Linked DNA regions of Homo sapiens. The protein of the gene in region 1 purifies or fractionates together with the protein of each later gene. This does not show direct contact. Each region holds a gene or a part of one and is shown in the gene's direction. Other genes may lie near its edges.

Region 1 (3,500 bases):
TTTTGTGTTTTTTGTAGAGACTGAGTTTCGCAACGTTGCCCAGGTTGGTCTCGAACTCCTGAGTTCAAGTGATCCACCCACTTTGGCCTCCCAAAGTTCTGGGATTACAGGCGTGAGCCACTGCACCTGGCAGACCCAAAAATCTTAAACTCGTTTAGTATGTTTTGCAGAAGCTGTACCATCTTCTGATTTACTAACAAACTAAGATCTTTGAAAGCCAGATATCTTAAGTATTAAAATCTTGAGAGGGGAAAAACATGACTACTAAAGATCTTTTCTTTTGCAACAAATAGAATCCTTTCCGTAATGAGAGGTCTGCTAAATGAGGTTTAAACTGCTCATATGTGTTACCATCCAAACCTGTGCCATATTTTATCTCAAGCAAATAACCATATCAGTCTGGGTAACCAAAGTTGTTCTGAAAATGATCAAAGAATAAGGCAACATTCTTGTACTCATAACACAAAAGGGCTTTTGTGAATTCTGGGTTCTTTCTGAGAAAGAAAATTATTTGGGGCTTTATTCACTGCTAACCATTATATCAAATCCTATTCCTGATTTTTCTCTCTTTGGGAGAAGCAACCTTTAAGATCCCAGGAGACATGAAGCCCTGGCACTTAGTAGCTCTTTGGACTTTTCACTGGTATTAGTTCACTGAGACTTAGTTTCTTTACATAGGTAAAGAAAGGGGATAATAATTCATACAGATTGTGAAGATTAAAATAACACAATTTTTTTAAATACAGTGCCCAGAACAGCACCTGGCACACAGTAGTTCTCTTATTCTCTCAAGATCATGGAACTGTTTCAGTAGTGAAGAGAATATAAAGGAGGATTGAGCCCTGGATGAGAGAATCGGCCAAATTATTAAGTTTCCTCTAACCCTGAGGCCCTTTGAGTCAATATGTGGTTAATTACATTCTTTTTAGGAAGGTTCTTTTGCTGATTAATTCCTGAAAGCAGAAATCTAAGTTTGTTTGTTTTTTTTCCCAAAAGAAATTTAGGCTTCCATCACATTAAGGTTTTTGTGAGACTGAGCGTCATTAGCAGCATTTGAAAAATAGCTGGGTTAAGGCCAGTATGCATTGTGAATCAAATCTCCAAATACAGCATGTCATATACAGTGCTTTTCAACCTTATTTGAATATAGCATGCCTATTAACAGCCATGGAATTTGTAGATTTGTTTGGGAAACACCAATCTAGACTATTCTCAGATGCTATTTTTCATTTTCATTGAGAACTTTCTTAAGGCGGAAGTAAGAGTTAAAATCAAATCTTAATCCCTCAAATCTTTGAAGAAGACCTAAGAGCTTTTCTCCAGCCTCTCCTACCCCGACAAATGCTTATACCACCACTATTTGAATACTTCTATTGATGGCCAGTGCACAGCCAGCTTCGTGATTTAATGGTGTTTTTTTCTATATTGAGCAAAATGTCTGTCACCTGCTAGTTTCCAATCATCTGTACCACCATTCATCTCTCTTCCATGCAACAACTCTTTTATGTATTTGAAATAAATCATTAGTTTTCTAGTTTTATATCCAGGAGAAAAACTCCAAATCCTTCACCTGTTTTTCTGTTAGGATTTCTGTATCCTTTCACCATTTCAGTTGCTGTCTTTTGGACATAATTTATTTGGTCAGCATCCCTCTTAAAGCAACTATATTTGAACACAGCACCTCACATACCCTCCAACCAGTAGAGAACATGTCTGTGTCTACACTGTTACCTCCTACATGAAATACAACATTCTTCTTTTAATGAAATTTAACAATTACGTCTTCTCATTAATTCATATGAGAAGTCAAGATCAACCCTATTTCTTTTTTTTCAAAACAAAGTTATGTTTTCCCACTCTGTTCCCCAAAAAGCAGAATCCAAATTTTTGGTAATTGACTAGACTGTAGAAATCATGTAGTTGTATGAACTCCTATATTTATTTGTGTATGAGTACTGAGTCTATACACTTAATTTTTTTCTTATGAGTACTGAGTCTATACACTTAATTTTTTTCTTAAGTTATATAACATAATTAGCATTACAACAGTAAACAGGAGAAAAATTTTAATGGCAAGAAAAAGAAGTCACATCACCACCATCTTAACACATTGATTTCTTATTCATTTTTTTCATGTGTCCTTGTCTGATGAGAAATAAAACTCAACAGGTAGAAAATCAAATGTTTCGATGAAGTTACGGTCCTTTACATCTATAACAGTCCCCCAATTATCAGCTTACCAATCATGTTAGAAAAAAAAAAAGCTTAGGTTAGTATTTTGTATTAGAAAGTCCATGTTGTCTCCCAAGATTTACCTCATACTTGTATAAACATGTACAAATGTCTATAGTGTTTCCTTAAAATTCTACAGAAAATTAGCATATGGCTTTCTAGTCTGCAATTTATGGAACGCAGTGTTTATATCCTCAAAAAGTTTAGTCATTATTTACCTTTTTCCTATAGTCTGGCACCTACCTTACTATTCATAATTTCTCAAAAGGGCAAATTCTCTTATTATGGTGAGATATAATTCTGGTCCTGGAGACTTGAACTCATTTAAGAAGGCCAAGCACTTAGTCATCAACTGCTGAGCTACCGTGAACTTCAGTGTTCTCCCACTTCAACTTGTTCCACTTGCTATAGTTTGTTCACCATTCTCCTCACTGAAGAGAAAGATAGGTAACATAGGTATTGCGAACCCCTATTTTCTTGCTATCCTCTGTAACATGATACTAGTTTCTATAAGTTGTAGACAAGACATGTCTCCTTATTTTGAAAGTATAGGTTGAGTATCCCAAATCTGAAAATCCAAAATCCCAAATCATCTAAAATTTGAAACTTTTTTTTTTTTTTTTTTGAGATGGATTCTCACTCTGTCACCTAGGCTGGAGTGCAATGGCATGGTCTCAGCTCACTGCAACCTCCACCTCCTGGGTTCAAGCAATTCTCCCACCTCAGCCTTCCGAATAGCTGGGACTACAGGCGCATGCCACCACACCTGGCTAATTTTTATATTTTTAGTAGAGACGGCATTTCACTATGTTGGCCAGGTTGGTCTCGAACCCCTGACCTCATGATCCATCCGCCTCAGCCTCCCAAAGTGCTGGGATTACAGGCGTAATCCCACCCTGCCCAGCCTTTATTTTTTAATTTGGGATGCTCAAACAGTATATAATACAAATATGCCAAAATCTAAAAAAATAAAAAATGTAAAACACTTCTGGTCCCACTCATTTTGGAGAAGAGATATTCAACCAGTATTGGAAAAAGCTCTTTGCACTGTCTTTAGCTCTTTTACTTTGGTACATACACTCAGCTTGTTTTGATTTTGAGCATCTTGGACATGCTACTGATCCACCTGAGTTGGTATCCTCTTCTTCCTTCTACTGTGCATGTCCTCTTAAAATAGGGGTTGAGGAGGGGCTTTCTTCCTTCTTCTGTCATTGAGATCATTCATGATTGATTTCTTTTAGACTCTCATTACTCTGCAAAGGAATTTT
Region 2 (3,500 bases), on another chromosome or scaffold:
ACCTGTCCCAGATGTCGCTCAGCTCTGAATTTGGGGAGTGCTGCTTTCTCACTTGGCCCTGTCCACGTGGCTTCTCTGAAACATACCCTTCAAGGTTGGGGTGGCTGTGGAATGTTTCCCAGAAGACATGTTCCTATACAAAGACAGAACAGGTCACATTTCATAAATCTCACATATGAGAGGCCCATGTTTTTGTCCTAGGACATCGTAAGTTTTGAATCCCAAGGGTGTTTTGGAGCTGTGGGCTGTGCCCTTCCAGTCCCCCACAGCAGTGCTGTTGCCCAAGAATCTCCTAGCGAGAGACCAGGGGCTACTGCCAGGTGACAGAAAAGGGAACATCAGTTCCGCTATACCCACAGCTCACCTGGCGGCCTGGGGCCTGCACAGGGCCTGGTTGAGGCAGTGGACCCCATTTTTGGGCCGTCTGTGGAGTTGATGTTCCTGCCAGCTGGTCCCTCTCTGTCTTCCCTGGAACTTCACCTGCAGTTTGATGCCTGAGTTAAAATTGTTCTTCTAAATAATTCACTGTAGACTTTCTGTTTTTAGCTATGTGAAAACTTCTGAGAAACTTGGAGAGTGGAATGAGAAAGTGACCCAGTCAGACCTGTGAGTGCCTGTATCATCAGCACCTCCTCCTTCCTCCTCTCCGCCTCCTGACACTCAGTCGGGGAAGGGGGCTGTGCACACTTGGCACAAAGCTTGTTTTGGTATTTGCTGGCTATTTTTTCTTCCTATAACTTTTCTTCTCTCAGGTAAACTATCCTTTAAACTTTTGTGGAACAGGGAATAGTAGCTGAGAGAAACTCACTCAGCCACCTGACCACACTTAAAACTCCCCTCTGCCTGATATGCGTCCCTTATGTAAGAGGCCTGCACTGGTCCTGGCTGTATCTCTAACTAATAGAGCTCCTTGGCTTCCGGCAGTGCACAAGCTGGACAACACCACTTGGCCTGGGTTTGTTGGTGGCGAATTTTTGTTTGTTCTAACCCTAACCCTTTTCCCTGCTTAGCTCCAGCTGTTGGGTTCTCAGAATTCCTTTCCTCCTTTAGGGGTAGTTCTTGAGTGGAGGGCATGGTGTAGGATATGCTGGTGGAAATTTGAAATCCTCACGATCTGGGAGGCACTGCATTGTCAGAGCATCAGCCAGTGTGGATCAAGTGTGGATAGTTTTGTATGTGTGTGTCAGTGGTGTTGTTCAGAGTGACTCCTAATATTTGGAGATCCTTAAACTAGATAATAGCACTTCATTTACTTGTGCTCTGATCTGATTATAACGTCTTTAAACTGAGGAGGGGAATATTTTTAAATAGTCTCTGTGGGATTTTTTCATCTGTTATTTAGAAGGAAGCGCTGTAATCGTTGCCACAGAACATGGGCAGAAAGTCCTCCCATGTTGGTCTGAAAGGAAGCAGTTGCTGCCGAGCTTGTCTTGAAGGTCCTGGGGGACCAGGCTGGCACTGCGTGCACATGGAGCCTTTGCGTCTGGTGTCACGGTGGGAGGCTGGTGTCAGGAACCCCGGGCGGTTCTCGGCATGTTGCCCCGGGTATTCCAGGGACCCGGGTGGTTCGTGGGCATGGCTACAGCAGCCAGCTGTACATCTGGGTGCTCTGGGGACCCGGGCGGTTCACGGCATGTTGCCCTGGGTATTCCAGGGACCCGGGCGGTTTGTGGGCATGGCTACAGCAGCCAGCTGTACATCTGGGTGCTCTGGGGACCCGGGTGGTTCATGGCATGTTGCCCTGGGTTTTTTTTGTTTGTTTGGTTTTTTTTTTGAGACAACGTCTCGTTCTGTCTCCCAGGCTGGAGTGCAGTGGCGCCATCTGGGCTCACTGCAAGCTCCGCCTCCCGGGTTCACACCATTCTCCTGCCTCAGCCTCCCCAGTAGCTGGGACTACAGGCGCCCGCCACCACGCCCGGCTAATTTTTTCTATTTTTAGTAGAGACAGGATTTCACCATGTCAGCCAGGATGGTCTCAATCTCCTGACCTCGTGATCCGCCTGCCTCAGCCTCCCAAAGTGCTGGGACTACAGGCGCCCACCACCACGCCCGGCTAATTTTTTGTATTTTTAGTAGAGACAGGGTTTCATGGTGTTAGCCAGGATGGTTTCGATCTCCTGACCTCGTGATCCGCCCATCTCGGCCTCCCAAAGTGCTGGGATGACAGGCGTGACCCACTGCACCCGGCTTGAGCAGGGTGTTCTAGGGACCCTGGTGGGCTGTGTCTCGGGCTGTTGAACAGTGACTTTGCTGGGCAGCAGATGGTTCCTAGGTTGGGACAGTGACGGTCATCCTTGCAGTTTGGGCATCAGGCGGACGCACAGTGCAGACTCAGTCTGAAAATAGTCTTAGGAGACTTCAGTGCTGTTTTGTAAAACCAACTGACATAAAGCTGCCGGGATCCTATTTCAAATAAATAGTGTTTTAGAGAGCTTATTACAACACTCAGCGTCCCGACCCCTCTGGAGAAACCTGTGGCTCAGCATGGAAGCATATGGCCAGTGCATCACCTGGCCGAGGCCATTCCCCTGAGTTCTGTGGCGAGAGCTGTCAACTGACGGTTCCAGAGTGGAAGCGTTTCTGCCGGGAAGGCCCAGGCCGAGGGCGATGGTTTCTGCCGGGACGGCCCAGGCCGAGGGCGATGGTTTCTGGTGGGAAGGCCCAGGCCGAGGGCGATGGTTTCTGCCGGGACGGCCGAGGCCGAGGGCGGTGGTTTCTGCCGGGACGGCCCAGACGGAAGGGATGCGGCTTGGGAGGTGGGGCCTGAGGATGTGGCCATGGCGCGTGCTCTTCCTGGCTGGTGCCTCTCCTAGTCAGCTTCAGGAGATGGGCTGTAGATGTACCTCCACTGCCCAGAGCTCTGCAGGGGAAGGCAGTAAAAGCTCCCTGCATCCTGACCCACGTGTTTGTAGATCCTTTCAGCTATTGGCGCCCTGGAGGATGGACGGGAAGGAGAACGTGGCCGGTGGGTGGAGGATAGCACTGGTGCCTGGCCCCATGAGGCTGCAATGCGGCCACATTCTCAGTGGGTCATGTCTGAATGCGAGAGCAGCTGTGTTCTGCGAGTGGTGAAACAATTGCCTGTTGCATTCTATTTATAGGCAGAGGTAACTAAAAACCTCAGTGCTGAGAGGGGCATCATATAGATCCTGCAGTTATGAGCTGGTTCACTTGGAGTTGTTTTGGTTGCAGGTGACAGAAAGCACGACTCAAGGTAGCATCAACCAAACAGGGAGGTGGGAGCACTCACCAGGCAGAGAAGTCCCTGCCCCCACTGCTGCAGCCCAACAGTGTGGCCCCATATGGGTCTCCCTGGACTAATGGCTGCGGCCTTGGAGGTGGTGTGCTCTGGCCAGGCCTGGATCACTTGTCCATCCTGAGTGGGAGTGGGGGCAGCCCCCAGAGACAGACTCAGGAGAGGGGGAGTGCAAGGATGTCCCCCAGATGCCCTGTGCTGCCCAGGGGACAGCTCACTGGCAGTGGGACGAAACCGCTGTCTG
Region 3 (3,500 bases), on another chromosome or scaffold:
TTAGCCAGGCATGGTGGTGCGCACCTGTAATCCCAGCTACTCGGGAAGCTGAGACACAAGAATCACTTGAACCCAGGAGGCGGAGGTTGCAGTGAGTCAAGATCACACCACTGCACTCCAGCCCGGGCAACAGACTGAGACCCTGTCTCCAAAAAATAAATAAATAAATAAATAAATAAATAAATAAATAAATAAATAAATAAAATAAATCTTAATTTTTGAACTGCACATATACATATGAGACACTGTGGAAAAGTTTGGCAGTTCCTCAGCATATTAGATACAGAATTATTATATGATCTGGCATTTCATCTCCTAAGTCTACACCCAGAAGAAGTGAAACAGGGACTCATATACTTGCGTGCCTGTGTTCATGGCCGCCTCTGTGGAAACAACCCAGGTGTCTGCCAGCAGATGAATGCATCCACAAAGTGTGGTATACACACAAACACACATACACGCTGAAACATGCGATAACATGATGGGCAAATACTCTGATTCTACGTATCTGGGTGCCCAGAATAGACAAACTGATAGAGGAAGACAGTAGAGTAAGCGCTACTAGGGATGGGGAATTAGTGTTGAGTGGATCCCGAGTTTCTGTTGGGTGTCATGAAAAGTTCTGGAGATGGATACTGGTGGTGGTTGTGCACCTTTTTGAATGTTATTTAATGCTACTGAATTGTACCTTCATAGTGGTTAAAAGGTAAGTTTTTATATGTTCTGTATATTTTACATAATACGCAGATTCATATCTATAAAAATATACATACTATCGAATATGCTTTAAATTTTGCTACTTAACATTATGTGGAGAACAATAACTTCATACTGCTCGAGTTTGACAATGTATATAAATTAAGTTAGCAGAAACCCAGGCTTCTGTGAAATTCTCAAAGCCTTTTTGACGCCTCTTGTATAAAAGTCTTCCGATGTTACCACTCCAGGCCTTGCTGAAATGTTTTCCTTCTGTTTATTTCCAGGGGATGGAGGTATGTTCTGCAACTCCTGGTGGCCGAGCGTGTATGACTTAGTGTAGTGGTGATGGCTGCAGACATTTTGGGTTGTTTTGGTAGGCTCTTGACGTTAGCTTTGTTTTCACTTGCACTTTGTCTGTTTAGAGTTTGTGGAAGTCATTTCTTTACCCAAGAATGACCTGCTGCAGAGACTTGATGGTAAGCATTCTCCAGACCGCCACCCAGTTTCTCCAGTTCTCCCCGTCCCCATCCCAGCAAACTGGGTACTAAATATAACTCCATTTCTTTATCTTTTTTGTATCACTAAAGTCAAATGCCTAGCAACTTGTAAAACTGCAGGTGACCACTACTAATTTTCCTTTCTGGGTGGCACAGAGTTTGAAAATAAGAGCAAAGCATTCTGGGTCAAGTGCAAACTTTTGGTAGAGGCTTTTTCTCCTACAGAATGGCCCAGATGACATTCCTGCTGAGTAGCCAAAACGATTCTACACTTTAAACCTTCAGTCCATAGCAATGCAAAGGTGTGGGTAGATAAGCTGTTAGCTTTTCCTCAAGTATGCTAGTATGAGGGATGGTCCTTTGTGGAGGCTGTATGTTCAAGGAGAAATTGATGATGCTCCTTCAACAAATACTTGAGGTATTTCCTGTATACTCCGTGTGATATGCTTTTCACATAATAAACCAAACCAGCTGTGTGGCCCTTAGAAATCACTGGTCATGTAGATGCATTGTATAATTCTTGGCCACCCATCTTTTAGAGACTTTGTAAACAGTAAGCTTATGGGGAGAAAAGTCCTTTGATAAAACCACGAGAGGAGATACTGTATGGAGACATGAGGAGATACTGTGTGGAGACGAGGAGATACTGTATGGAGACATACCATGGGCCCTTCAAGGAGCACCTCTGTATGGGCTGGCAAATCCCTTTCACTCATCTAGAAAGAAGCAGACACTTGTCATCATGGGAATATTTTATTGGGTATAAGTGTTTTAGGTAATTGATAACTGATTTTTCTACTGTTTTTAAGTGATTACTTCAAATGTGATTTGAAGCATTGTTTGGCCTGAAGCTTTAAGACCAGTTTCTTAAGCTTTTCCCTGAGTTTCAGCAGCTTACGGTTTCAGTGAATAAGCAGAGCGCCTGGTTTTGAATTGTCTGTTGTTTGTTTGAAAATCTGAATGTGTCTTTCAAAGGCTGCTGTGATTTCTTTGGATAAAATCAGATTTCGTATCCCTTAGAGAGCTTCCACTCCTGCTTCACCTTTCCAAAAACTAGACCTAAGGTAGAAGCCACCTCGACAGCTCAAAGCCAGAGTTAGAACAATCATACTGAATAGATACAATAGTTTATCTGGTGCGTATTTGGAGAAAGGCATGACAATCAATACGAGGCAGCGCAGCTCGGAGTCACAGGCCCGACTCGGTTTGAGGCTCCGCGGACCATAATTAGCTATCACATCAAACAGGTTCTGTAGCCTCTCTCGGCTTTTTTCATAAAACAGGAACAATAACAGCCCCTCCCTCTGAGGAGGTGCGTGGAAAGCAGGGTGACGTAGGCAAGTGTGAAATGCCGTGCGGGGTTATCTTTTAGTAGAAGAGTATCCTTTTTGTAAAATGTCTTCCTTCTCCCTTCCACCTTCTTAACTTCACTTTTGGTCTTAGAAAAGGGAGAAAAAAATAGAATAAGTGAGGGGAGGTGGAGAGAGGGCTACTATGGCTATAAAGGAGGAGGGGTAAAAGAACCAAGTTGCCTAGCTTTAGCAGAATCAAAATACAGTAATCAAACCGTTTATTCAACCAGCAACATTTGAGAAGTCGGAAGGAAAGTATTACATTTTAAGATCAGTTTGCTGGCCGGGTGCGGTGGCTCACGCCTGTAATCCCAGCACTTTGGGAGGCCGAGGTAGGCTGATCACTTGAGGTCAGGAGCTCCAGACCAGCCTGGCCAACATAGTAAAACCCCATCTCTACTAAAAATACAAAAATTAGCCAGGCATGGTGGTACATGCCGGTAGTCCCAGCTACTCAGGAGGCTGGGGCAGGAGAATCGCTTGAACCCGGGAGGCGCAGGTTGCAGTGAGCCAAGATCGTGGCACTGCACTGCAGCCTGGCGACAAAGTGAGACTCCATCTCAAAAACATAAAAAAAAAATTAAAAAAAGATCAGTTTGCTACAAAGAGTAGCATCTGCCAGTTACCAAGCACCTGCTGTGCCCAGGTGAGTAGGACATGCTTCCTGCCTGCAAATGTCCCCAGGCTTGTTCCCAAACAAGCGGCTAGGAAAACAAGAGGCTGATTTTACATCTGGCAACCTCCATCTGAGTGAAACAAATTTTAATGAAAGCCTGTGGTAATAAGGTCCTGAGACCGCATTCTTGGTAGTAGATCTCCAGTCCTAACATGCACACAGTTTAACTTGCCGGGGGAACATATGTATCCCCTAGCAGCAGAAAAGATGGAATCCCTAAGATCCTACATAATCATCACCATCTGGTTTCAGAAAAGCAAAGCCCTACCCCAGCTA
Region 4 (3,500 bases), on another chromosome or scaffold:
TTGGAGAAGTATTTGAACAAGTATTTAACATCTTTGAGTCTGTTTTCTGATCTGTAAAAATGGAAATAATGACACCTACTGTAAGGATTAAATGAAATTATGTATACAATGCAAGTGACATAGTCAATAAATGGCAGATCACTATTGTTTTTTATTATCTCTATTTTTTAAAATTCTAGCTTCAAATGATACTTATCATGGAGACTTTTTGGTTCCCCTTCCCTGACCTAAAGGGATCTCTCTGAGCACACACCTTTTGGCTCTTACCACATCCTGCCCTCCGTTGTGATTCTGTACTTGGCTTATTCACTCATCTCGTGGACTGGGAGCCCTTTGAACTCAAAGGCTAGGTCTTACTGATCTTGGTCCCCAGCCACTGAAAGTTTGGCCCAGGGTCTTCCCCACAGCTGGCCCTCAAGGAATGCTTGCTGGGTGAATGGAGAATGTCTACATAATGGGAGGAGAGACACTGGGTGCCGGGTGTGCTTGTTATGGAGGTTATCTGTGCAAAAGCTGTGTGCATAGGATGGGCTCCCTAGGAGAAGATAATGCAGTCGTGATGGGATCTGTGTGGGGGCTGTGTGATTGAGATAATGTGTGTATAGAGAGAGTAAGGTAGCTTTGTGGGAAAGAGCTCTGCCTAGGCTGGGGTGCATCTGGGGAGAATGAGTGTGCATTTGAGTATGGAGGGGCTGTACCGGGGGAAGTTCTGTGCAGCCCTTCAGCTAGCTGCCCAGTCCAGCTCTAAATGAGTCTCCAGCAGCCTGAGGCCGGATATGTCAGTCTCACCCACAGCCCTCCCCCACTGCCAGCGGTTGCGGACTCAGAGGCCAAATTTGGTAACAGACTGAGTGTTACTCCCCCATCCCTCTTATATTCTGACTGTCTTAAGCTCTTTCCTTTTGTTCCTGTCTGTAACTCCCTATCTTTCTGCAATTCCCCTTGTGGGTATCTGCTCTGACTATATTCTCCAAGTACCCCAACTTTCTTAGCTCCAATACTCTTACATTCCATTCCTTGCTGGGATTTGACCTCCTGTCCTCCATTCCCCCCCTCCAATTGCCCAACTTCTTTGGAATGCATCGCAGGAATGTATTGAGGGAGGAGGAGTTCCCTGGGAGGGGGACACGGCAGTGGGGAGTTGCTGTTCCATCAAACACAATGGAAAAGGGAGCAAAGTTCTCAGGCCAAAGGAGGAATGAGCTAGCTTCTACTCATACTTGTAGCAGCCTTGTTCTTTGCCACCACCACCCACAATTCACTGATCAGTTCTTCGCGTCCACACACCCTCTTGTAGCTGTGTGAATATCCACTCTGGACCAGCTGGGGAGTAAGGGTAGGCATGACTCAGCTCCCTTATCGGGGTCTCACCAGAGGCTTCCGTGCTTGAGGAGGAAGGGGGTGTCTAAGTGTCCAGAGGAAATGGGGGGAGACATGCAGTTTCAGCTTAGTGTGAAGGGTCCTTTCAGTCCTGCTTCTTGGCTCCACAGACTCCTCCAGCTTCTCGGATCCACCAGCCCAGCCCTCATTCTTTCATGGTCAGCAACCCCATAGCCAGGTCTGTCCAGCTGGGACACAAGCGGATAGTAATAAGGTTGGGCAAAGTGCCCCAGGAGTGGGGAGGGGGCAGAGAGCTGGAACTGGGGAGACTGGGAGGGTCCTCTCTTATTGGGGAGTAAAGACAGAGAGCTGTGGTTCTTCTCTTTTGAGACTCTGGACTGCTTGTAAGGTCAGAAATGGTCTATCTGCCACTTGGTACCAGACCGCTGATCTAGACCATTTTCATACCTGCCTCCTGTCTCTTGTTTCTACTTAGATTTTCAATTCTCCTCATCCCATCTCTCCTAACTTCTTTACCCTCTACCCCTTCTTAACTTCCCTGGCTTTCAAATGCCTTCTGTATCCTAACACCCCCATCTCTGCTTTCCAGCCTTCCCCTCTCACCCTGCTTTTCCCCATTTGAGGCTTGTAGTTTGCCAGGAGGGGAATGGGCAGCTTGTATTTGCCCATTCTCTTAGTTAAGAGGCACCCAATCCCTGTACCAAGCAGGGGCACATCAGCAGCAGCCGGGCAGACTTGTCCTCTTGCAGCCTGTGCGCCACCTGCTGCCTCCAGTGCCTCCTCTAGCCTGCTGAGAGGGGGTGCCAGGAGGGTGGAAGAAGGTGGGGTAGGACTAGTATTCTGAGCTGCACTGAAAATACAGTCAGGGGAAGTGGGTGAGACAGAGCAGAATTCGAGACAGACTTGCTGAAGAGGAGAAAGCATGGGAGGAGTTGCAGGACTGAGTATTAACTTGATGACTTGGAACAAGCAAGGACTGAGTTACAGGGACTGGGTCCTTTCTCTGGCCTGTCTTGAAAATGTTTCCTGGCCTCCCAGAGTCTATTTCCCCTTCTCCAAAACACAAGAGTTGACCAGATAACTTCTGAGATAGATCCCTTTGAGTTAGAGAATCACATTTCTAGCTTGACTGCCTGGGAAGCCCAGTACAGGGCTAGGCTCCTTCAGAAGGCCCCCGCATCTCAGGTTAGAAAAAAGCTGGGGCAAGAGCGGACCCCTGAATGGCTTGAGCAACCAGTATTTGGTCTCCCTGCCAGGCTAGCTAGAGTTTGTTTGCAGGCTTCAAGAGCCTTAGGGAATTATAACATCTTCATTTTGCAGAGAAGGCAGCTAAAGCCATGAGAAGGAAGGTCACGTGGTGAGAAGAGAGCTCTGAAAATCCCGGACAGGGAAGAGCCAGCAGGACACAGCAGGAGACAAAGAGAGAAAAATACTGAACCAGGCAAAAATGAAAAGAAGGCAGGAGTAGGGCTGAGAAAGGTGATCAGGGACAAGGGGCAAGAGAGATACTTGGATGAAAGTAGGGAGGTACAAATTCCAGTGGTGGGGCAGGGCAGTGTCCTCAGGTAGCACTGCATTTCAGACCTGCTATTGTACCTTGCAGACCAGCTTCTCCTTTCCCTCAGATGTCTTAAATTGTTAGGACTTGGCCGGGCGTGGTGGCTCACGCCTGTAATCCCAGCACTTGGGGAGGCCAAGGTGGATCACGAGGTCAGGAGATCGAGACCATCCTGGCTAACATGGTGAAACCCCGTCTCTACTAAAAATACAAAAAATTAGCCAGGCATGGCAGCGGGCGCCTGTAGTCCCAGCTACTGGGGAGGCTGAGACAGGAGAATGGCGTGAATCCAGGAGGCGGAGCTTGCAGCGAGCTGAGATCGCACCACTGTACTCTAGCCTGGGCAACAGAACGAAACTCTGTCTCAAAAAAAAAAATTGTCAGGACTCATTCTTTTGATGTAAATAATTTTTCACTCTTTAAAATTATTAAATACAATGAAAACAACCTTATTACCATCTACTTTGGTGAGTCCCTTTCAAAAACACTCTTCCCTTGGACTCCACCATCTGGGGGGCCTCTTCTCCCACCAGAAGAGTGTATTCTAATGCCCTGATGCCATGGGTCAGGTATAGCCAGGCTGGAGAAAAGAAGCTGCCAC
Region 5 (3,500 bases), on another chromosome or scaffold:
ATTGAACTCCAAGGGTTTAGAAGTTCTCCAATTGATGCAGAGTTTTAGGAAAATGAATCTCAGATTCTTAACTACATATACACTGCAAAAATACTTTGTAAAATACTGTTGCCTAGTTTGTAAACTATGACATTGCCAGTTCGTTAGTTTTTAAACAAATGGCTATCCTTTATATGTTTTTATTTTTTTCCACCCCCCAAAAACATTAGTAAAGAAAGGGTAAAAATGATACCCATTTTCATCCTTTAATAGTATTTTGGAGTTGTGGAATGAGGGCAGCCAAGAAATCTATTCACATTTCTATTACTGAAAACTGGTACCATATGCTGTTCCTGTTATAATGATTCTTATAGTCAGAGATCTGTAGACTGAGTGAGGAGCCTGGGCATATACATGAGAATAATGGTAGCTGGTATTGAGACACTTAAGAACAATACAATAATATGGTGGACAAATAGAGAAGTTTCAGTGAGAAATGTTAGCTTGTAAGTCTCCTCTGCTTTGAAAGATTGTTTTCTGTTTTCACTCATTGTAATTTATGTTACCTTAGGGATCTTATTTTTTAAAAGAAGTTTTAAAAACCTCTTACTGTGTCTTAAAGTGTTTTCTTAAGGTATAAAGTAAATTTCTGTTTTGATTTTTTTTATTGGAAAGTTCATACAGATTGACCCTGGGACTAAGTCATTAAGAAAAAAAAAATATATTTATTCATGATCTTTAAAATACTTGCCGTTATATGAGTCAGTTAACAAAATCACTCATCCCTCTCCAAAATGTTATTTCACATTTTACTTAGCCCACTTTAAATGATGGTAGAAAAATCACTTCATTATTGGCATTTTGACATAATGAACTTCATGCATTTTCATTAATTTGGTCTACTAATTTTGAACATGATTATTAAGAGTACACAGAAGGTTCATCAAAAGCTTTATGATCCAGTGATGCTTCCCAAGTAGCCTTCTACTTATAATGAAAATGATAACATTACTGGGTCAAGTGCATAGATATTTAGATGGGAGGTAAAGTGGACTGAAGACCAAGGAGAGCTTCACCTTTTTGAAATCCATCTCTAGAAACAAACAGCAGTTCATATGCTAGACTTACATGTATGAAAGTGTTAGAAATATATAAATCTACACCTTAAAGGTTAATTCTCAAGTGGAGCTCGGGCACCATCCCAGCTCTAAGGCTATTTGCTGTTTGGGTTGTTATTATTATTATTATTATTTTGAGTTAAAGAATGTAGTATGCAATCAAAATCACTAACTTTGAAACTGAAAAGACAGCTTTGTCCAGATTGGCTACAGTAGTGGAAATAAGGAACAAAGGGGCTTTTTTAGAAAATGGTGACTTTAAAAGAAACTGTTTTAAAATTCTTCTTGCAGACTCAGTGTTCCTGAAAGTACACCTTTCACAGCAGTCTTAAAGTTTGCAGCAGAAGAAGTAAGTACAGAAGTTGGAACAACCTTTATGGAATGCGGTTTGCCAATATGCTTCAAATGTCTTTAAGAGTTGCATGCACTTTGACCCATCATTTCCATGTGGCTTCATTACTAGGTTTATGTTATCAAAAAGTAGGATGATAGTTAAGACTTACTTTCAGATATAAGAAGCATGAGTTAAACAAATTGACATATCTGATTAATGCAACCATTGAAAATTATAAGAATTTAATGAATTTTTATGAGAATTTTTATGAAAACTAAAAAGGTGCTGATTTTTAAATGTTTTTTAAAATGCAACATTATATCACATTATATTCTATATACTCATATTTTACTAGTCTTGATTCCAAAATTGCAATTTCATAGAATCTTTATCATAGTTTTCAAATTTTCTATATGAGCATGTGGACTGTCAGTAAAATTTGTTGTTTTGAAAAGTTTCTAGTTTTTTAAAACATGTTTGAATTTTCTGTTTCATAAGAAACAATTTTTTTCATCCAAAATTATTAGAAATATCTATAATGCAACTTTTTGGACATGACACTTGAAAAAGTAGCTTGATCTGTTAGAAATGGCACCCAAATGTGACTTCGGAGACTTAGGGTTCCTGTTGTAGGTGCGTCATTAGTTAGCTATGTGACATGATGCAAATCCCTCTTTTTTATTCTGCAAAATGGAAGTAGTTAATACCTGTCCTTCCTCTCTGATCAAGTGATTTCGAGTAAAAACATTATTTCCTGAAATTTTCTGTTGAAGTTAAAAGTGCTAAACAGGTACGTTGTAACCCAAATCAAAACGTTTTGGTTCAGAATCTTTTGAAAAGTTTATAGTCACAGAAAAATAATTTTCTTAACTACATTAATAAAAAATAGCTTAACACACAATCCTGCCCTGTACTTCACTGATTTATGGCAAGTCAGCCAATCCATCAGTGCTCAAAGCTCCTTGTATTGTCAGGAATCACTAACATTATTTGTCACTCATTCAGAATTAAACTGCCAACTAGTAGCATTTGTTTTGTGTCTGATAGATTCTTCATGCAGAAAGAATAAGTAAAATGAGATGGGACACAAATCTGAGTATAGCATTGTCATTACTTTTTGCTGCACAGATTACTTGCAAGAAATATTCTAGTCTGGGGCATAACAGAATCCACAAATTCCAGATTTAAGAAGTAGATCTATATAAGCTTTATTTAATATTTGTTATATTTTTTAGTTACTCATTGTGTGTCCTTTATAATGCAAAGGCATTTTTTGTGATCTTGGTTTTCTAATTAAAATAGAAGAAAATCTTAACATACAGTAGTGAATAAGAAACACCACACAACCATATATATTGATTAAGGTAGTTTATAAGTAAAGCTTACAGTAGAGTAAGCTACAGAAAAGAAAATATTAAGAAAACCATAAGAGAAAGTATATTTACTATTCATTAAGTGGAAAAGGATCACTATTATGAATCATAGGTGTTACATATTTAGAAAGGATATGACTTTCAGATCGTTGTGAGAGGGGCTTTCACAAGATAACATTGTAGAATCATTCAGTGAGAACAAAAGTTGACTCAAGAAAGCAAGAGTCTGGATTTAAATCCCTCGTAAAATTGCCTTAGTAAGCAATAATAAAATTTCCCAGCACATGACTGGGGTAAGTAATGAATTGTTGAAACCTGCAAAGAGCCCTAAATTATAAGAATTATGGGGGATCGGAGGAGGAAAATAAATGAAAACAGAAGACCATAAAAGAATACTTTGCATTCAGTAGAAAACCTGTCAGTACTGTAGGACAAAAAGGAATAGATTCTACATTTTACATCACCAGTGATGCCTCCTCATGGTTTAACCATTTCTTCCACATTCTGCCTAAAGGGAAAACTGTGTCAGCAATTGCTTTTGGTTTTTAAAGTTATAGGTTGCTACTACATGGATGTGACTAAGAAAATACATAGATTATCTTAAAATGGGCATGATGTAAAAGACTCAATCAGTAGGGTAACTAAAAACTTTGTAGTACTCTAGCTTTGGAAATCTGAGAGGCCTATATAGTTCAT
Region 6 (3,500 bases), on another chromosome or scaffold:
CGCCTCCTGCCTTTGGTCCCACGCGATGAGGGCCCATTTACCCCCTGCCCGCGCGTGCCTCCTGCCATGGGCTTGGTTTCTGGGGTCGTGGGGATTCCAGCAGCTCCTGGCGCCTCACCCGCCCCCTCGCCGTGTCCTGCAGAAGTTTGACGAGCTCCTGCACCTGGCCTCGAGGGGCCAGCACAGCAATGTGGACATGCTGGTGCGGGACGTCTACGGCGGCGCCCACCAGACTCTCGGGCTGAGCGGGAACCTCATCGCCAGCAGCTTCGGGAAGTCGGCCACCGCCGACCAAGGTGCTCACCCCGGCCTCTGCCGCCAGAGAGCAGGATGGTGGGGACACTTGGGGTCTCACGGACAGGAGCTTCCCCCACCATTGCTTTCCCACAACTGCTCCCTGGAGAGTCGGGGTCTTGGGTGTCAGCCCTGTAACCTCTTCCTGCCGAGTCGCTGCAGCTCAGGCCCACTGCTCAGAACGTCGGCAGATAAACGCCACGGTCTTGGTTTTGGAAGAAAAAATAGTTTCCTGATTGGGTTTTTTCCTCCTTCAAAACAAAGCTTAATCCGTCCAGGAATGATTCACACATCACACGCAGCCTCCCGCACTTGGGCTCCAGTTCCCCCACTCAGCTCTCTCTCCCCCTCCCCTCCCACTCAGCTCTCTCTCCCCCTCCCCTCCCACTCAGCTCTCTCTCCCCCTCCCCTCCTGCTCGCTCTCATGTCGTGCACTTGCTGTACTTGGAGATGAGTGCCTTTTCCTTCCCTTCCTCAGAGTTCTCCAAAGAAGACATGGCGAAGAGCCTGCTGCACATGATCAGCAACGACATTGGGCAGCTGGCCTGCCTCCACGCACGGCTGCACAGCCTGGACCGCGTGTACTTTGGAGGCTTCTTTATCCGGGGCCACCCCGTGACCATGCGCACCATCACCTATAGCATCAACTTCTTCTCCAAGGTAACGGATGCGCCGCCCTCCCCAGCCTCTAACGCAGACCCCCCAGGATCTTCCCAATCAGTCATGCTGGTTAGACACCGCAGCACCCCCAGGGAGGCCTGGAGGGTGGGGGCCAAGAAGCCCAGCACCCCTCCCTTCTGACTGATTCTGGGCAGCCTACATTTTGTGGCACCGTGGCCACCTGAGTTTGAGTACATCACCAGTGATGAGCATTCTAGAGAGCTCCAGGCAGGCCTGCTGATCTGCGCTGGGGTCAGGGTGCCCCTGCCCCCGCAGAGGCACGCCCACCCACATGCCTGACGCAGAGACTTGTGGGCCAGGGACTCGCTGCATGGGAGAAGCTATCTCACCCTTAGCTTTCTTCAAACAGCAGCCCGCCCTCTGGTGCCAGGCGCGATTCCACTGGCAAGTATGCCGTGGGTGCCATGGCGCCTCTTCGAGGGTTTGGGCCGCGCGGTGCGAGGCCCGCGCACGTTGAGCTGGTTTGCGGAGGCACCGGGTGTTGTGTGGGGCCAACAGCAGCACGTGTGCTTTGGCCACGGCAGGGGGAAGTGCAGGCGCTGTTTCTGAGGCACGAAGGCTACCTGGGAGCCATCGGAGCGTTCCTGAAAGGAGCTGAGCAGGACAGTGAGTCGCGGTGCTGGCGCCCCTGAGCAGCGTGGGGCCTCAGCTGTGGCCTGGGCCTGTGCTCCAGGCCAGGGCGGCCCAGGGTGGAGGTGGGGTGGGGAGCGTGAGTCCTCAGAAAGTGACAGCAGCAGGCATGTCTAACATTTTAACAATTTAGTTAATAAGCGATTTTATACCCTTTCCTCCTCCACTCTCCTGCTTTTGAATCAAGGGCAAGGTTAACACAAGTGACCTGGCTTCTTGCTTTCCAGATCCTAACCAGTACAGCTGGGGAGAGAACTATGCAGGCAGCTCCGGGCTGATGAGTGCATCACCCGAGCTCGGCCCGGCGCAGCGGGCGCGGAGTGGCACTGTGAGTAGTGGGCTCTGGCCGCCCCGGGCCCCAGGGGAGCAGCCTATGCCGCACTCACCTCGCCTGTCCCTGAGCGAAGCCTCTTGTGGCTGTCCCGGCTGAAAGGCGCCTCTGCCCATGGCGAATCCTCCCATGGACCTGGGGTATAACTAGGGGCAAGAGAAGGACACTGTGGCTTGCTTTCCCATCTCCCTCATTGGGTGCTTTCGTATTTTGGAAACATTCAGCAGGAATTACGGAGTCTGTGTGATCCGGCCTTCTTGTTTGCAGAGAGATTGCTAAAGTTCAGGGGTGACGGGGACCTCTCCCCACGCCAGAAGGCCCGTCCACTTTGGAGTTGAAACCCGAAACCGCAGGAGCCACCCAGGGCCCTGCCTAGGACTGCGCGCTCTGCCGCACACTGCCGCGCACTGTGGCTGATGGTCTGTCGGTTACAGTCTGCTCTCCTCGGGGTGTCCCGGCTCATTCCTTGGATCCCCAGTGGGTTTGCCCTGGCCTGAGCTGGGTGGCACTGGCGGGCTAGGAGACGCACCCCATGTCTGCCGAGTTGGAGCTGCTCCGGAAGGGTCCCCCGCCAGGACCTGCGTCAGCCACGGGATGCCCCCAGCACAGCCCCACATGGCAGGAACCGCCCCGTGTCACAGGCTGTCAGGGTCCTCGACCGTGCCCCCCCGCGGGGCTCATTCCTTCTGTAGCTGTGAGCAGTTAACCTGAGGTCACGCACAAAGCTAGTCGGACCCCTCAGGACAGGCCGCTGGCATTGTTGGCAGGAAGTTGCTTGTCATTTGTAGACATGGGGTTCAGTGTCAGTATTTTCAAGACCGCGACTTGTTGAGTTTTGGCTTCTCAGGAGGGCGCCTCCCTTTTGTGTGGGTCCTGCAGTTCACACCAGGCCACGGCCTCGCACAGACGCACCACACTGGCCGCAGCCCTGGTCTGCCTTTCCCACCGCCAGCACTAGGCAGGGGAGTGGGGGCGAGGCTCTGGGGGCCTGGCAGAGCCCCAGGCTCTCAGCTTTTGCCCTGCTGTTGGGCAGAGGGGCTTGGTGTCTTCCAGCCTCAGTTTCTGATTTGCCAAGTGTGCATAATTTGCCAAATGTCCTGGACTGTAACCTGGAGTGACTGCGTGGACGGCCACAGTGCTTCGGGGGCCCCGTTCAGGAGGCGCTTGTTACCTATTTGGTACCCCACCAGTGGCACAGCCCTGCCAGGCAGGAGGGGCCCCCACCTTACTGAGGATCAAACTGACATGCAGAGAGATGGAGTCATTTATTTCAGTTTATATTGTCCAAAAAAGTCAAAGCGAAGATTTGAACCCATTTGTCAGGATAGAAGGAGCCTGCGACCTGGCAAGGCAGCACCAGGCGATCCCGGCTGTGGTCCGTGGTAGTTAAGGTGGGGCTCCTGCCGCCTTCTGCACTGGCTTTGGGAAGTCACTGGCTTTTTCCACGTGGAGCTTCTGCCCGGCATGGGCTTCCCACCTGGAAGGCGTCCCCTTTGCTCTGGAGGTCCCTGCCCACCCAGAGGCTGCTTCTCCAGCCCCAGGGGTTGCCAGCAGGGGTGCCCCA
Region 7 (3,500 bases), on another chromosome or scaffold:
TTCACTTGAGGTCAGGAGTTTGAGACCAGCATGGCCATCATGGTGAAACCCCGTGTCTACTAAAAATACAAAAATTAGCCGGGTGTGGTTTCTGATGCCTGAAATCCCAGCTACTTGGGAGGCTGAGGCAGGAGAATTACTTGTACCTGGGAGGCAGAGGTTGCAGTGAGCCAAGATCACGCCACTGCACTCCAGCCTGGGCGACAGAGTGAGACTGTCACAAAAAAAAAAAAAAGCTGATTGTAGTATGTTATTGATTAGTCTTGTGTCTAATCCATGTTTTTAAGATTCTTTTCCTTAAGACAAGTGATCAATTCCTGTCATAAATGAAAAAAGTGAGTGTAATTAATTCAAATAAAATTTATCTGTTCTTATGCTTCTAGTTATTTTAAAATTTTATGCAGATTTTCTATGGACATGATTGGTTTCAAATGAAGAAACAGTGCTGTTAAAATACATGAATCATATAACAGGAATGCTGTAATAGTTCTGAGTATGTAGAGGACTAGGAACCGCTTAGATTGTGTATTCTGTTTCTTACCATTTGTAGACATGAATAATCATCTTGATTTTATTTAGATACCTGAAGTTATAATGATTCCTTTATAATTAAATATTAAAGAAGATATTCAGATGTAATTTTGCAAATTTATGGAAATAGTTGTTATCCTAAGGTGTTTTCATTTGCTCCTTACATGCCTTAGGTTTTAAAATTGTAGGCTGGCTGGGTGTGGTTCCTCATGCCTGTATTTCCAGCATTTTGGGAGGCCGAGGTGAGAGGATTTCTTGAGGCCAAGAGTTTGAGACTAGCCTGGGTTAGTATAACAAGACCCCATATCTAGTAAAAATAAAAATAAAATTACAGGCTTTTTAAAAAGTTACGATTCTTTTAACCTCTCTGGCAGACCCAAATTAAATATTCTAGGACAGGAGTGTCCAGTCTTTTGGCTTCCCTGGGCCACATTGGAAGAGGAATTGTCTTGGGCCACACATGAAATACACTAACAATAGCTGATGAACTAAAAAAATCACCAAAAAAATTTCATAATGTTTTAAGAAAGTTTGTGAATTTGTGTTGGGCCTCATGCAGCCCGTGGGCCATGGGTTGGACAAGTTTGCCTGGAAACAAGTTTGTACTTACGATCACATGACCAATGTTGGTCCCGCTTGATTTTCTATCTCCCAGCTTGACCAGTGTCTCAGTAGGGTTGCCCAGAGGAGGAAAACTCATTTGATCCAATAATTTATGTGGATTTTAACCATTCAAACCTCCTTCTGAAATCAAGCCACTTAAAGTGGCCCAGATAGGTGAAAATCTGGAGGTCTGTGAAACTCTAGGTTTAGGTCCTCTTCACGAGCTAGGCCCAGGCCCCTGGTGTTACGTGTCTTGTTACCAGACTAGGGTGATTTCATCAGCATTGAGTTAGATCACCAACAAAATGAAGGTTTCTCCAGTGCGTGCTATGTTGCTGGCACAGTGCTTAATAAGGTCCAGTCGTACAGAGAAGCTTATAGTGCTAGAATAATTGCATTTGCATTTATGTAATTGACATTTGTAGTTGATTGTGGCCTGCTTTATCGGGCTTATGCTACTTTATATGTTGAATTTAGGAGTGTTTGAAACAGAAACAAACCAAAACCAAATTTGGTTTCATCTTGCAAAATGCTTTGGTATAAGTAGAATAAATATTTTGGTGGCCTAAGATCAGAACAGTCACTGTGCAGTTAACTTACTAAAGAACATCAGTACCATGAGATAAAATTAGTAAGGGGAAAATAAATATTAAATAAGCCCAAATGGGGCTTTATAAATCCCAGGTTATTATTTTTTTGAAGAGAAAAAAAAAATGTACTTTTAGAGCAGATGTAGATAGAATTTTTCATTTTTGCTTGAAAGAACATTATACTGTTCATATTCTTACCATTTGATGACTCAGTGGGAAGTAAGGGAACTAGTTTAAACCACACTGCTGTGAAGAGGAAACTATATATGGTAAAATCTATTTCTTAAACACAGCCTTACTGCACACAATGAAAGAACGAAGTCACCAAGTCTTAAAATGATTGACATGGGGGAGGAATTTCAAGGATTAAGATGATACCAATGATACCAAATGATAGTTTAGAAAGGAATGTTTTCTTTGTATTTTATCACATCATGGTTTAGTTTTTTTTTTTTTTTTAGACAGAGTCTTGCTCCGTTGCCCAGGCCAGAGTGCAGTGGCATGATTTTGGCTTACTGCAGCCTCCATCTCCCGGGTTCAAGCAATTCTCCTGCCTCAGCCTCCCCAGTAGCTGGGATCACAGGTGTGCACCACCACGCCAGGCTAATTTTTGTATTTTTAGTAGAGATGTGGTTTCTCCATGTTCGTCAGGCTGGTCTCCAACTCCTGACGTCAGGTGATCTGCCTGCCTCAGCCTCCCAAAGTGCTGGGATTATAGGCGTGAGCACTGCGCCCAGTCTAGATTTTTTTTAATACTGATTATTATTATTATTTGCAGAAGTAATCAGATTGTCAGTTTTATATTATTGAAAAATTGGGGCCAGGCACAGTGGTTGATGCCTATAATCCCAGCACTTTGGGAGGTAAAGGTGGGAGGATTGCTTGAGGCTGGGAGTTCAAGACCATCCTGAGCAACAGCGAGACCCCTGTCTCCACAAAAAATAATATAATTTAAAAATTATAATTTTTATTTTTTCTTTACTGCTTCTTGCAGAGCAGGACTACCCCATAGGCAGTGTGCCCAGAGTAGCCAGTATAATTTTTTTTTTAATTATTTTATTTTATTATTGTTTTTGAGACAGAGTCTCACTCTGTCTCCCAGGCTGGAGTGTATTCATGTTATCTCGGCTCACTGCAACCTCCGCCTCCCAGGTTCAAGTGATTCTTCTGCCCCAGCCTCTCAAGTAGCTGGGATTACAGGCATGCACCACCACGCCCAGCCAATTTTGTACTTTTAGTAGAGATGGGGTTTCACCATATTGGCCAGGCTGGTTTCGAACTCCTGACCTCAAATGATCCTCCTGCCTTGGCCTCCTAAAGTGCTGGGATTACAGGTGTGAGCCCCCACACTCAGCCTTTTTTTTTCCTGACAGGGTCTCACTCTGTTGCCTAGGTGGGAGTGCAGTGGTACAATCATGGCTCAAGGCTCAACGTAGCCTCAACCTCCCTGGGCTCAGGTGATCCTCCCACCTCAGCCTCCCGAGTTTCTGGGGCTACAGGTGTGTGTCACCACGCCTGGCTAATTTTTGTATTTTTTGTAGAAATGGGGTTTTGCTCTGTAGCTTCAGGCTGGTCTCGAACTCCTGGGCCCAAGCAATCCACCCACTTTGGCTTCCTACAGTGCCAAGATTACAGGTGTGAGCCACCATTCCCAGCCAATTATTTTAGTTCTTGTTATTATAACTGTTAATGTTTTCACTTTTGAAGTAATGTGAAATAGTGCAATTTTTGCTATCTTGATGGATGAATATATACCCTGTATGAAAACTGGTGCTG

Evidence for each region.
Region 2: the proteins of EFL1 (region 1) and TPD52L2 fractionate together in Homo sapiens (co-fractionation; one large-scale study listed by BioGRID). This does not show direct contact.
Region 3: the proteins of EFL1 (region 1) and NUDT5 fractionate together in Homo sapiens (co-fractionation; one large-scale study listed by BioGRID). This does not show direct contact.
Region 4: the proteins of EFL1 (region 1) and TLN1 fractionate together in Homo sapiens (co-fractionation; one large-scale study listed by BioGRID). This does not show direct contact.
Region 5: the proteins of EFL1 (region 1) and UFM1 fractionate together in Homo sapiens (co-fractionation; one large-scale study listed by BioGRID). This does not show direct contact.
Region 6: the proteins of EFL1 (region 1) and PANK4 fractionate together in Homo sapiens (co-fractionation; one large-scale study listed by BioGRID). This does not show direct contact.
Region 7: the proteins of EFL1 (region 1) and ACTR2 fractionate together in Homo sapiens (co-fractionation; one large-scale study listed by BioGRID). This does not show direct contact.

Annotation. Positions count from the first base shown.
Region 1 is NC_000015.10:82,147,735-82,151,234, reverse strand, and holds part of EFL1 (elongation factor-like GTPase 1), read left to right. Parts: intron 1-3,500. UniProt on the Homo sapiens protein: GTPase involved in the biogenesis of the 60S ribosomal subunit and translational activation of ribosomes.
Region 2 is NC_000020.11:63,875,270-63,878,769, forward strand, and holds part of TPD52L2 (tumor protein D54), read left to right. Parts: intron 1-546; coding exon 547-606; intron 607-3,500.
Region 3 is NC_000010.11:12,168,392-12,171,891, reverse strand, and holds part of NUDT5 (ADP-sugar pyrophosphatase), read left to right. Parts: intron 1-983; coding exon 984-992; intron 993-1,121; coding exon 1,122-1,175; intron 1,176-1,933; exon of another isoform or gene 1,934-2,564; coding exon of another isoform or gene 2,565-2,634; intron 2,635-3,500. UniProt on the Homo sapiens protein: Enzyme that can either act as an ADP-sugar pyrophosphatase in absence of diphosphate or catalyze the synthesis of ATP in presence of diphosphate.
Region 4 is NC_000009.12:35,725,696-35,729,195, reverse strand, and holds part of TLN1 (talin-1), read left to right. Parts: intron 1-3,468; 5' UTR 3,469-3,500. UniProt on the Homo sapiens protein: High molecular weight cytoskeletal protein concentrated at regions of cell-matrix and cell-cell contacts. Involved in connections of major cytoskeletal structures to the plasma membrane.
Region 5 is NC_000013.11:38,352,851-38,356,350, forward strand, and holds part of UFM1 (ubiquitin-fold modifier 1), read left to right. Parts: intron 1-1,388; coding exon 1,389-1,446; intron 1,447-2,160; exon of another isoform or gene 2,161-2,221; intron 2,222-3,500. UniProt on the Homo sapiens protein: Ubiquitin-like modifier which can be covalently attached via an isopeptide bond to lysine residues of substrate proteins as a monomer or a lysine-linked polymer.
Region 6 is NC_000001.11:2,516,597-2,520,096, reverse strand, and holds part of PANK4 (4'-phosphopantetheine phosphatase), read left to right. Parts: intron 1-142; coding exon 143-296; intron 297-772; coding exon 773-954; intron 955-1,499; coding exon 1,500-1,581; intron 1,582-1,832; coding exon 1,833-1,933; intron 1,934-2,203; coding exon of another isoform or gene 2,204-2,215; exon of another isoform or gene 2,216-3,500. UniProt on the Homo sapiens protein: Phosphatase which shows a preference for 4'-phosphopantetheine and its oxidatively damaged forms (sulfonate or S-sulfonate), providing strong indirect evidence that the phosphatase activity pre-empts damage in the coenzyme A (CoA) pathway.
Region 7 is NC_000002.12:65,230,831-65,234,330, forward strand, and holds part of ACTR2 (actin-related protein 2), read left to right. Parts: intron 1-3,500. UniProt on the Homo sapiens protein: ATP-binding component of the Arp2/3 complex, a multiprotein complex that mediates actin polymerization upon stimulation by nucleation-promoting factor (NPF).